Linked DNA regions of Homo sapiens: region 1 is linked to region 2. The links come from fine-mapping of genetic effects on gene expression. A gene starts in region 2. The other region holds a variant in brackets. All regions are shown on one strand. Distances are between the middles of the regions.

Region 1 (5,366 bases), 47 kb before region 2:
GTGGGTTCAAATTCTGGCTCAGGCACTTCTGTACTGTGTGACCTTAGACAAGTGATTCCACCTCTCCGAGCCTCAGTTCCCTCCTCTGAAAAATAGAATGACATTACCTACTTCCCAGAGCTTTACAAGGATTCAATGAAATTGTGTGTGTTCCCTGGCACATAGTAAGAACTCAGTGTATGCCAGTGGTTACTATTATTAGCTACCATGTGCCAAGCCCTGTGCTCAGTATTTTCCATACAACTTGAGGAAGGCTTTTTTTTTTTTTTTTTTTTTTTTTTTTTTTGAGATGGAATTTCACTCTTGTTGCCCAGGCTGAGTGCAATGGCATGATCTCGGCTCACTGCCACCTCTTCCTCCTGGGTTCAAGCAATTCTCCTGCCTCAGCCTCCCGAGTTGCTGGGATTACAGGTTCCTGCCACCACCCCCAGCTAATTTTTGTTATTTTTAGTAGAGACAGGGTTTTGCCATGTTGGCCAAGTTGGTCTCAAACTCCTGACCTCAGGTGATCTGCCCGCCTCAGCCTCCCAAAGTGCTGGGATTACAAGCGTGAGCCACCGCGCCCGGCCGAGGAAGGCATTGTTTTTATCCTGACTTTACAGAGAAGGAATTCAGTTGTATGCAGTTTAGTAACTTGCCCCACCAGCTAAGCTTGGCAGAGCTGGGACACAATCCCCTGTTGGGCACCAAAGCCCTCTTTTTACTCATCCACCCTGCTCTGAAACTGGAACCCGGGCCTCCATATTCTTCACCGGCCCCCAGGCTCACATCATCTATTTTCCTACCTGACTCACCTTTGAGGTTGTGGGAGGCTCTTCCCAGGAGACATGTCTCCTTTGATTGCATTTGTCTGGGAGCCCAGCACTCCGCAAGCCCGGGCCATGAGATGTAATCTGCAATGAATGTGGTACACAATAAATACAGGTAGTCCGTTTATGAGCTGCCATATTTATTACACCCCTTAATTGCTAAAGAGCCAGAGCCGGCTGAAGCTGGATCCTACCCTGGAGAGAAGCTCTGCCTGGGTGGGCAGAGGGAGGGATGGCAGAGCCTGGCCTCCTGCACAGGACTACTCAGCCTCTCGCTGTTGTGGCTGCTCTGCCTCCAAAGGCCCATTCATCCAAGTCAGGGCCTGGCAGAGGAAACAGTCAGGCCATCAGATTCCTGCTCTGCCATTTGACACAAGAAGGCACTGAGGCCAGAGACAGAAAGTGATTTGCCCAAGGTCACACAACAGTGACTTACAGAGCAGAAGCCTGGGCTCCAGACTCCTAGGCCAGTGCTCCTTGTGCCCAACTCTCTGCTTGAACATCTGCTCCTGGATCAGGTAGAGCACAGGATGTGGAGTTGGGTGAGTGGTGTTTTTGAAGCCCAGTCTGTGCATACAAGCTGTGTGATACTGGCCAGGTTACTTGACCCCTCTGAGCTTCAGTGTCCTCTTCTGTAAAATGGGCATAGTACGTCCTGCTTTAGGGGCTTGTTGAGAGATTAAAGGCAGTCAGTTCTGCGGAGTTGGCATGTGACTGGCCATGAGTCAGTGCTCAATAAATGTTCTTTCCTATCCTCTTTTCCCTTTCCAAAGGGCACAGGGTGACTGAAGATGCACGGAGCTGAAGTCAGCCAAGAGCTGAAAGGAGAGATGGGTCAGAATAGAAAGCTCCGGGGTGCAAGGCATTGTCCTGGGTTTATGGTCTAACAGGGAACAGCAGGCCTATGAGTAACCTATGAAGGCAGAGTTAGGTGTAGACGTGATAAGAGCTGTCCATCCTGCTCTGTGCAGGTACAGCGGGGAGCCCTTTACACTGGATGTTTTTATAGGTGAAGAAACTGAAGTTCCAAGAGGCTAAGTCACTTGCCCAAAGACACAGAGGTAGAAAAGGTGATGGGCTGGGATTCGAACCCAGTTGTGTCTGACTTCAGAGCCCATGCTTAGGACCATGCTGGTTGGATGCAGGTTAGATGTTCCTTCTAGAAAGTCAGGGATGATGTGAGGGATGTAGCTGGCAAGCTGGCCTGGAAATGGTATCCTGGGGGACCGTTCTGTAGGAAGAGAGCCTGGGCTTGGTGACGAAGGAAGAGCCAAAGGCCCCACAGTCAGTGATGATGGTTGAGATGCTTAACAGCCAGTATGCACTGGCATGAACCAACCAGAAGAGATGCTGGCCAGACAGCAGGACAGCCATCCCTATGGGTCCCCACTGAATCTCAGCCCTGCCCACTGCCCTCTGGGAGGGCAGGGCCTGGAGAAAAGGAAGGGATAGGTTGTCCTGGTGCCTCCCATCCCAGGCAGGCACCAAAGCAGGCAGCTCTAGGCTTTCAGGCCTCAGGAAGACCTGAGGAGAGAAGGGTGAGCAAGCGGGGCATTAGGGGGGCCTGTCCTGGGCTGTCCTCACCCAGGAGAGGGTACAACAGAGAGAGGAAACGGAGCACAGGAGAACACGACTGTGGGTTTGAATCCTTGTTGCTCCACTTTCTAGCTGTTGGAGGCGAGGAGGATACGAATGACTGGAAGCATGCCTTAGCCCAGCACCAGGCTTCCTTCACACTGCTGAATTAACACTCCCTATGTGGAGGGTTTTACTCAGTCCAAACCAAGTGCAACCCTACTGTGTCCCAGGAGGGCACAGCCACGACTCTGCTCCTCTGGGATTCACCAGGAACGC[T/A]GGCTGATGATGTTATGGTATATATTTTGGTGGGGGCAGTGGTAGATGTCAGCAGAAGCCGTGGGATATTATACTAGGGGAAGGCACTGAGCTTGGCTTGATGGGGGCAGGAGGGGGGAATCAGGGAAGGCTTCCTGGCGGAGGTGATGCCTGTGACGAGTCTTAAAGGATGAATAGGAATTAAGTGGGACTGGCATAGTTGGAAAGGCAATCCAAACAGAAGGGATCAGCATGAGCAGAGGCACCAAGTAAGCGTCAGGGACATACCTCTGGGGGACTCTCCTTTGATGGTGGTGATAGGAAAGTCAGGGCAGGAATAACAAGAGGTGGCGATGGTGAGTCTTGGAGGTCCTGTGGTCTGTAGGAGGCAGCTTGGTCTCCTGTAGAGGTTGGGTTCCAGCAAGAGAGGGCTGTGGTGACATGTGCTTTCTGGAAAGCTCCTTCTGGCAGCAGGGAAGCACTGGATTGAAGGGGAGGTAGGGAGGCCAGTCCCAGCCCAGAGGCTGCAGCCATGTCTGGATGAGAGAGAAGGCCAGGAGCAGGGCTGAGGCTGGAGATGTTTCAGAGACCCCTGTGATAGAGAGGATGATGTCATCCGATTTTACCTCCAAAGGCAGATGGCATGTCTTGAATTCAGGCCATGCTCACTGAAGTAAAGACAAATCCGCCCCCCACCCCATCACACACACACCATCCTTTGTCCTTCCAAGCTGGATTGCCTGGGTTCCAATCTTGGCTTCACCACTCACTAGCTGTGACCTCAGACAAGTCACCTCGCCTCTGTCTGACTCAGTTTCCACCTCTGGAAAATAAGGATAATAAGAGTATTAATCTCATGGGTTGTTATGAGTTAGTAAATGTAAAGTATCAGGACGGAGCTGGCACATAGTAAATGCTCAATAAATAGTATTATTTGTAGGGGTGGAGACTTGGGTGGATGATCTCAGGAAAACCCTGATTTCCCATTACCCCAACACAATTTAAGAGAAACCCTTGGGGCACTGTTGGAAGGACAAAGGCTTGGAGCCTGGAGTCCCTGGGTCAGGTTCACCCCATGATTTTTTCCCTTGCATTCCTCACCAGGTAACTTGGTGCCTCAGTTTCCCCTTCCTAGTAAGAGAAGAAGGAGGATGTCCCAGGTGGGCTCTGAGTGTCTTCCCCTCCTGACTTTGATGCTGAGTGGCCCCGCCTGTGCCTCCCCTGCTCAGCATTTTTCCAAGTTGCAATAGGGACCAGTAGAGCAGCAAGGAGGAGGTGTCCCTTTAGGGAGGAAAGCCCTCCGGCCCCAGGGCCAGTGCCAAATCCAAAGCCGATGTGCCTGTCAGACCTTCCTCTTGGGCTCCAGGCACCTTAGCCATGTCTGCCTGGCCAAGCTCAGCTGGTGGACAGACATCTGGCACCTTGGCAGAAACAACGAGAGGAGGGACGCAAGGCACCACCCCTGAGACCAGGAACCTTTCCTGTGTCGACTCCCCACCAGCTGGCTCTGTCTGTGCTCCTCTCTCCATGGATTCAAATGCACTTAAAAACAAACAAACAAACAAACAAAAACACCTCTAGCTCAGACCAAAATGCAGCCTGGAGTGGTGCTGTCATCACTGATTAGGAGAGGGGTGGAGTGGCCCAGCAGGTGAGAGGCAGGCACCGCTCTGCTCCATCTGTTCCTTATGATACGAGGGTGCTGGTCTGGCTGCTGAGGAGAGTGTTGGATTGTGGTTTTGGGCGAGGGCGAGGAGGGGACAGAGTTGCTGAGGCCTATTATGTGCCATGGGCCTTGTCAGTGCTTCCTACAAGCTGTGTGGCCTTGGACAAATCCCTTAACCCTTCTGAGGGCTGGGCTGATGGAAGGATGTGTGGTCATCAGAGTACATACCTCCTTGGTGGTTACAAGGATTAAACGAGATAATATGCGCAAAACCCTGGGCACAGTGCTGGATCCCCAAACAGTGGCTACGATTATTACTGTTTTCCTGACTTCATTTTAAATTGATGAATAATAATTGTATATGTTTATGGAGTCCAATGTGATGCTTTGATACACATTTTACTATTATTAATATTAATAATAAGCCTCCCAGAAACCCTTTGAGTCAGACTTAGCAACCTTATTTTGTGGAAGAAGAAGATAGAGTACAGCCATGTCCTGTGGGAGGAAGCGGGAGCTGCAGAAAGTAATCAGACACCATCTCCCCTACATCCATCCACACCCCAACACATATTCCCAGAACCCTTTGCACTGAGTCCTGTCATGGAGGTACAAACCCCCTGCTGGAAGCACCTGCAGTGCCGGCAGCTCAGGACTGGCTTGAGTTCTGGCCCTTCCCCTTACTAGCTGTGGGACATCGGACATGTCGTTTTCATTCTGAGTCTCGGTTTCCCCACCTGTCTCATGGATCTCTAATCCCTGCCCTGAGTCTCTCCTCAGAGCCGTTATGAAGAAAATGTGAAAATAACGAATATGGAATGTAAACATGTCTTGTGCACCTTGAGGTCTGACTCATGAGAGCAGATGCTGTCAGTTTCCCCTGGGGGATGGGGGACATTTGCATCTCAGTGCAGCCCCGGCTGTGCCTGGCAAGCAGCGGATGCTCAATCAATGTTGGCTGAATGGAATTGTGTTCAATGACTTGCTGCCATGGGTATACTTTTAGGTGAAGACAGGAAGGGCTCCCAGGGAGGTGGGATGCTAGAGGTCTCAGAGTA
Region 2 (5,366 bases):
CACAACCATAGTCCAGGACTGAGTGTCTCCCCAATCCTGGGGTGCTGGCTTAGTGGTTAAAGGACTAGCTCATGACTTAAAAGGCTTGTGCTCCATCCTGGCTCTACCACTGATGAGCTGTATGCCTTTGGGCCAGTGACTCTGCCTCCCTGGGCCTCAGTTTCCTCATCTGTTAAATGGGGTGTAATAATGACACCAACCTCTCACCAGTGAGAAGATGCACCAAAAAAATCCAGAACAGCGCCTGTTTTGTAGTTAATGTTCAATAATAATGCTGCTCATTATTTTTAGACTAGAAGACTCTACTTCCTTGCCTCAGTTGCCCCCTTGACCAAATCTGCCTCAGAGCAGGTCCCCTTCTAGGGATCATGTGCCAGGTCAGAGTTGGGTGCTCAGAAGGGACTGGTCATAGGAAGGAAGTGGGATGAGAGAGAGCAAGGGTCACTTTGGGGCAGGAGGACGATGCTGCGCTGGCCCTGGGAGGGGTCCAGCCAGTGTAGCAGGATAAACAGTGAGACACAGGGTGCCGGGGAGGTATCGTGGACCAGGAGTCAGAACATCAGGCACCCCGCCCTGCAGCTGCCTCTCCTGGCCTGTGTGTCCTGGGGTGACTGACATACTGTCTCTGAGCCTCACTTCCCTCACCTGTGAAAGGGGAGGAATTCATCCCTTCTCAGTCACTCACTCTTCCTCAGCCCCTCACTCCCTGCTAGCTGCAGGGTAGGCACATTCCAGCCTCAGGGCCTTTGCATGGGCTGTGCTCTAGCTGTCTACACAGCTCACTCCCTCATCTCCCTCAAGGCTGTAGCTCAAAAGTTACCTCCTCAGGGAGACCTCCCTGACACCCTATTTAAAATGACAACCCGGTCCCTGGCCTCAATACCCCCAACACAACTTTTCCCCTTCACCTCTCAGTACACTATATAATTTGCTTATTGTTTTTATTAGGGAATTGCCTCCCCCTGCCCCCTGCTTTTAAGCATCAGCTCCATGAGGACAAAAATTTTTATTTTGTCCACAGCTGTCTCCCCAGTGCCTGAAACTGTCCCTGGCACTTTGCTCCATAAGCCATTTTTGGTGTAATGCTCACAAACATTTTGTTCAATAAGCAAAAGTAAAGAACAGCCCCAAACTGTGTGACTATGGGGCATTCCTGTTAAATCCAGCCCCCTCCTCCCCCATACCCCAAGAGGGGCAGGCCCTTCTTCCCACAGAGGTGGGGCTATCAAAAGAAATTGGGAGGCTGGGTGTGAGCTGGAGAAGCCACAAGGGGCCTGGAGGCAGAGCTGTGCAGAAAATAGGTCGCAGTCCTAGAACTGGCAGGTCATGACAGCTGGACATGGGTGAAGGGGCTTTCGGCCTTAGCCCTCCACTCCAAATTTGGAAGCACGGAGGAAGTTGACGACATGTGACTGGGAAAGAAGCGGCCATGGCAGGGGCCTCCTGGGATGGTGGGGACAGAGGGGGCCTCAGGAACAAGACGACCCATTTTACAGATGGGACAACAGAAGCCTGGAGAATAGTCTTATTTCCTAACAACCCAACAAGAAAAATCTTTTCTCTCCTTTCTCGAAGTCTGGGGCTGAGGCTAAGGAGCGGACAGTGCCCCCTCCTGGCTCTGCAACAAAACGACCCCCGCGTCCCTGGGATCTGCGGGCCGCAGATCCTGGTCCCCTCTCCACAGGCCGTCAGGGGTGGAGGTCCAAGGGACCACATAGTTGGGGTGGGCAGCCCCGGTGACTTCTCCCCGCAGGCCCGCCCCGTCAAGAAGTTTGTTTGAAAGAAACCAATCAGGAAGTGCAGGGTAGTGGGGCGGTGAGGGGGCCTTGGCCAGCCGCTCTGGGCTTTGGAGGAGCCTGGGGGTTCTTGGCCTCCGCGCTGCTCTTGCCCCAGCCTCCATCTCTCCGGCGGAGAAACCCACTCCCCCCGGGCTCCAGGAAGAGGCGGAAGCCCGAGACTGGGTCAGGGCGAAGGAAGGTAGAGCGAGGGGACCCAAGGCGAGCGCCCCGCCCCGCCCCGCCCAGCGGGGCGCGCCGGGGTGGGCGCGGCGTTCTGGCCCTTCCTCCACACAGCCTCCCCCGGGTAGGTGCGAGTGTTCTGCCCACGGCAGGGGCCCTAACCCACCCAGCGCCCGGCCAGTGGCCCCACACTGTACCCTTCCTGCAGATCGCGCGACTTTGGGGAGAGTGGGGGGCGTCTCCACCTGTGCGTCCCCTACCCACCCCCTAACTGGGCTAAGGCGCGGCCTGGGTTTCTGCCCGCCCCTTTCCAGCCTGGGGACGGGGGACTCTCTCAGCCTCGCCCCTCCCCCTGCAATCTGTCCCTGATGTCCCCGCTCCAGACACTCACCCACTTTCTGAGACCCAGGCCTCAGCGCCGGTGTCCCCCGGCGGTGAGCTCCGAGCCGTTAGGCGGCCCCGGGTTCTCCGGCCCAGGGCCCCTGCCCCCAGGCCCCCACCCCAGAAGGTCGGGCCAGACTTGTGGGCAGCGGGAACTCCGCCACCACCTCCGTCCGCGGCCCTGCGGGGGCAAAGACTGGGGGAACTCGCAAGTTTGCGCCGCGCACTCCTCCTGCCGGGAACAATGGCGGGAGGGGGAGGGGACAGAGAACCGAGCGCGGGGGACCGAGTCAGACCCCGGGGAGACAGAAACTGCTTTCGCTCCGTTTCTCTCCTGCTCTGAAGCAGAAAGCTCGAGCCCGAGAGGCAGTGGCCGAGGACGAAATAAGCAGTCCAGGAGGAGGGCGACCGCGGAGCCGGGGGAGAGGGGAAACCGAGTCAGAGGGAGGGGCGGCGAGGGGAGAGCGCGCAGGGGAGACGGAAGGGGCTGCGGGACGGCGCCTTGGGGAGCTGGGGAGGCGACCCCCTGGGGTCCCAGCGGGCTCAGCGGGTGCCGAGATGTCCCGGGGCGCCCGGTTAGCGCGCGCGGGGTCCCGGCCGCCCCTCTGCGGTCCCGTCGGCCGCAGGAGCCCCGCTGGGTTGCGCTGCGCAGGCGGCGGGCGGCGGGAGGGGAAAGTCCGCGGCTCGGAAGCGGCGGCGGGGAGCAGAACTTACGGGCCTCGCGCGTGCCGGCGCTGGGCTACGTGGAGCTGATGCCAGGCGGAGGCTCCGGGCTCGGACGCCTCACATCGCGCCGCCCGTGCCGGGCCGGGCAGTGCAGGGCAGGGCAGGGCAGGGCAGGGCAGGACAGGGCAGGGCAGGGCAGGGCCGGGCCGGCTGGACTGCGCGCGGCGCCCTGCGCGGCCGGGGCTTACCGAGTCTGGCGGCCCGCGCTGGTCCCTCCTCTCGGTTCCGCGCACAAGCCAATGGCGCGCCGTCCCCTCCCACGCGCCGGGCTGCCTCGCCCCCAGGGTGGCCGCCGGGGCGGGCGGGATGGGGGTTGGCGGGGAAACCAGGCTCCCGGCTCCCCCGCGAGGCTCTCCCGGGGGCCGCCTGCAGGGGGCGCACGCGCGCCCGAGAGAAGGCGCCGGGGGAGGAAGCCGCGCGGGGAGACCCTGGCGTGGCCCGCGCCGCCCAGGATGACTTTCCTGGCAAGTTCTGCAGACGGTGCCCCTTTCTTGGGACGATCAACGTAGATGGGCAAACCACACCATCTTAAATAGCCTTGCGGTGTCTCCCGGGCCCAGGCCGGTGCCTGAAATGGAAGGGACTGCTTTGGCTGGCGGTGATACCCAAGTGTGTAATAACACAGTCACGACAATAGTCACCGTTTGCTGCGCACTCTCTGATGCCAGACACCATATGCTAAAGGAGTTACAAGTATTAACTCATTTGATTTTCACAGCAACCCATAAGGGCGCTGTGCTTAGTCCCATTTTACAGGCCATGGTCGTTAAAGTTTGAGTTCACTCAGCCTTCAGGCTTCCAGCCTAGGCCCACCCTTCTCTCTCCCTGCTTGGTGTGACTTGGCCAAATAACATGACCCCACTGTCACTACGGCCACCTTCTTCATACTCCACCCTAAAATCCAGCCTCAGAGATGCTGCTGTCAGTTGCGCTGTCAGGAGGCTAGGATCTTATCTGGGGCTCTAGGACGCTTGTTGGCGCTACAGTTGTCAAACCTTTTGTCTCTACACATCCTATGGGGGGCTGGGGTGAGGATGAGGGTTGGGGGTCATGGAGGCTCTCTGGTGGCGTGTCAACCTGAGAGAACCAGGCTCCTACAGACAAGGCCCCACCCCCAAATTCTGGGCTCCTTCAACCCCTTATGGTGGGAAAATAATGTGCTCTCTCCCACCCCAACCCCCACCACCCTGTGCTCTCCTTAGAGAAATGCCTGGATCTCTTTCATCTGATCTGATGGTCACAGTGGGCCAGGAACCGGGGTGGGGGGCTGCGGGAAAAGGAAGGCAAGGCTGATGACATGCTCCATTTCACAAGTAAATAAGACAGAAAGAGGTGAGTGGCTGCCTCAGGCATCTAGCTAGGTGGGCATTCTGACTCCAGGTCTCGGTTCTGTCTGCACCAGTTCCTTAACGGTTAATAGAGCAGGCTCTGGAACCAGATCACCTAGGTTCAAATCCTGACTCTGCCTTTTAGTGCCTGTGTGGCCTTGGACAAAGTAAGTCACCTAGAGCAACCAATAGTAAGAACCGGCTATGGTTGCTGTAGAGATTTAGAGTTAATAGGAGCTGCTCATGTTTACTGTGCATGGACTCTGTGCCATGCAGGCTCCCACTGTCCTCACCAGAGCTGGGATTGGGCAGGAGAGTCTGTGCCCTTGGCAAGGAAGTAAACAGAACAGTCCTTGGTTCATAGTAAGTGCTCAGTGAATATAAACTGTCCTGATTACTAAGGTAGATAAACTCTGATGCCCCAGTGCCACTGACACTGCCCCCAGCCAAACACCTAGACAGTGATAGCCAATAATGAATGAATCAATCAATCAATCAAAGTATGTGACTCTAGATGAGGATTATTTTTAAGGTGTGTTGGGTGGAGCCATCTGACTCAAGGCTCTATAGTAATTTCTGCAACAACTCAGTCTCACCTCACTGCCTTTACAGAGCTGGGCCAAGCTGGGTTGATGAATTCATTTGTCACTCCCTCTTCTGCCTTTCTGGCACTCAGGGCTCTGGATTGCTGAAGGGAGGGCCCCCAGCGTCATTCATGTGCAATGTCCTCCCAGACTTGGGGACACCTGCCAGTGCTCTGCTTGGTGTAACCCTAAAGACTAGCAGCAGGGTCTGTGCTTGTAATCCCAGCCAGCCTGATCATACATCAGTGGGAGGCCTTTGTCACAATCACTCCAAGTTTTCCAACATGGAAGAGGCTGCCTTAGTTGTCATGAATGAGTGCCCTGTCACTAGCAGCATGCAAGCAGAATCCAGGGAAGGGTTGATGAGGACAGCAGAGGAAGAATTCCCA

The links. PIP is the estimated chance that this variant, and not a neighbour inherited with it, causes the effect.
Region 1: its variant is the best candidate, but not a certain one, in a credible set for the expression of TP53I11 in whole blood (INTERVAL, PIP 0.79).

What each region holds. Positions count from the first base shown.
Region 1 is chr11:44,900,426-44,905,791 of GRCh38, forward strand. All of the region lies in intron 3 of TSPAN18 (tetraspanin 18), which reads left to right. LOC124902664 (a long non-coding RNA gene) reads right to left here and starts at 3,414. Exons shown (of 3, transcript XR_007062659.1): 1 at 3,355-3,414; 2 at 2,931-3,234; 3 at 713-893. The variant T/A (reference allele first, on the strand shown) is at 2,664.
Region 2 is chr11:44,947,624-44,952,989 of GRCh38, forward strand. It overlaps TP53I11 (tumor protein p53 inducible protein 11), which reads right to left and starts at 3,260. Exons shown (of 7, transcript NM_006034.5): 1 at 3,054-3,260. RefSeq lists silencers at 3,030-3,159, 3,190-3,449.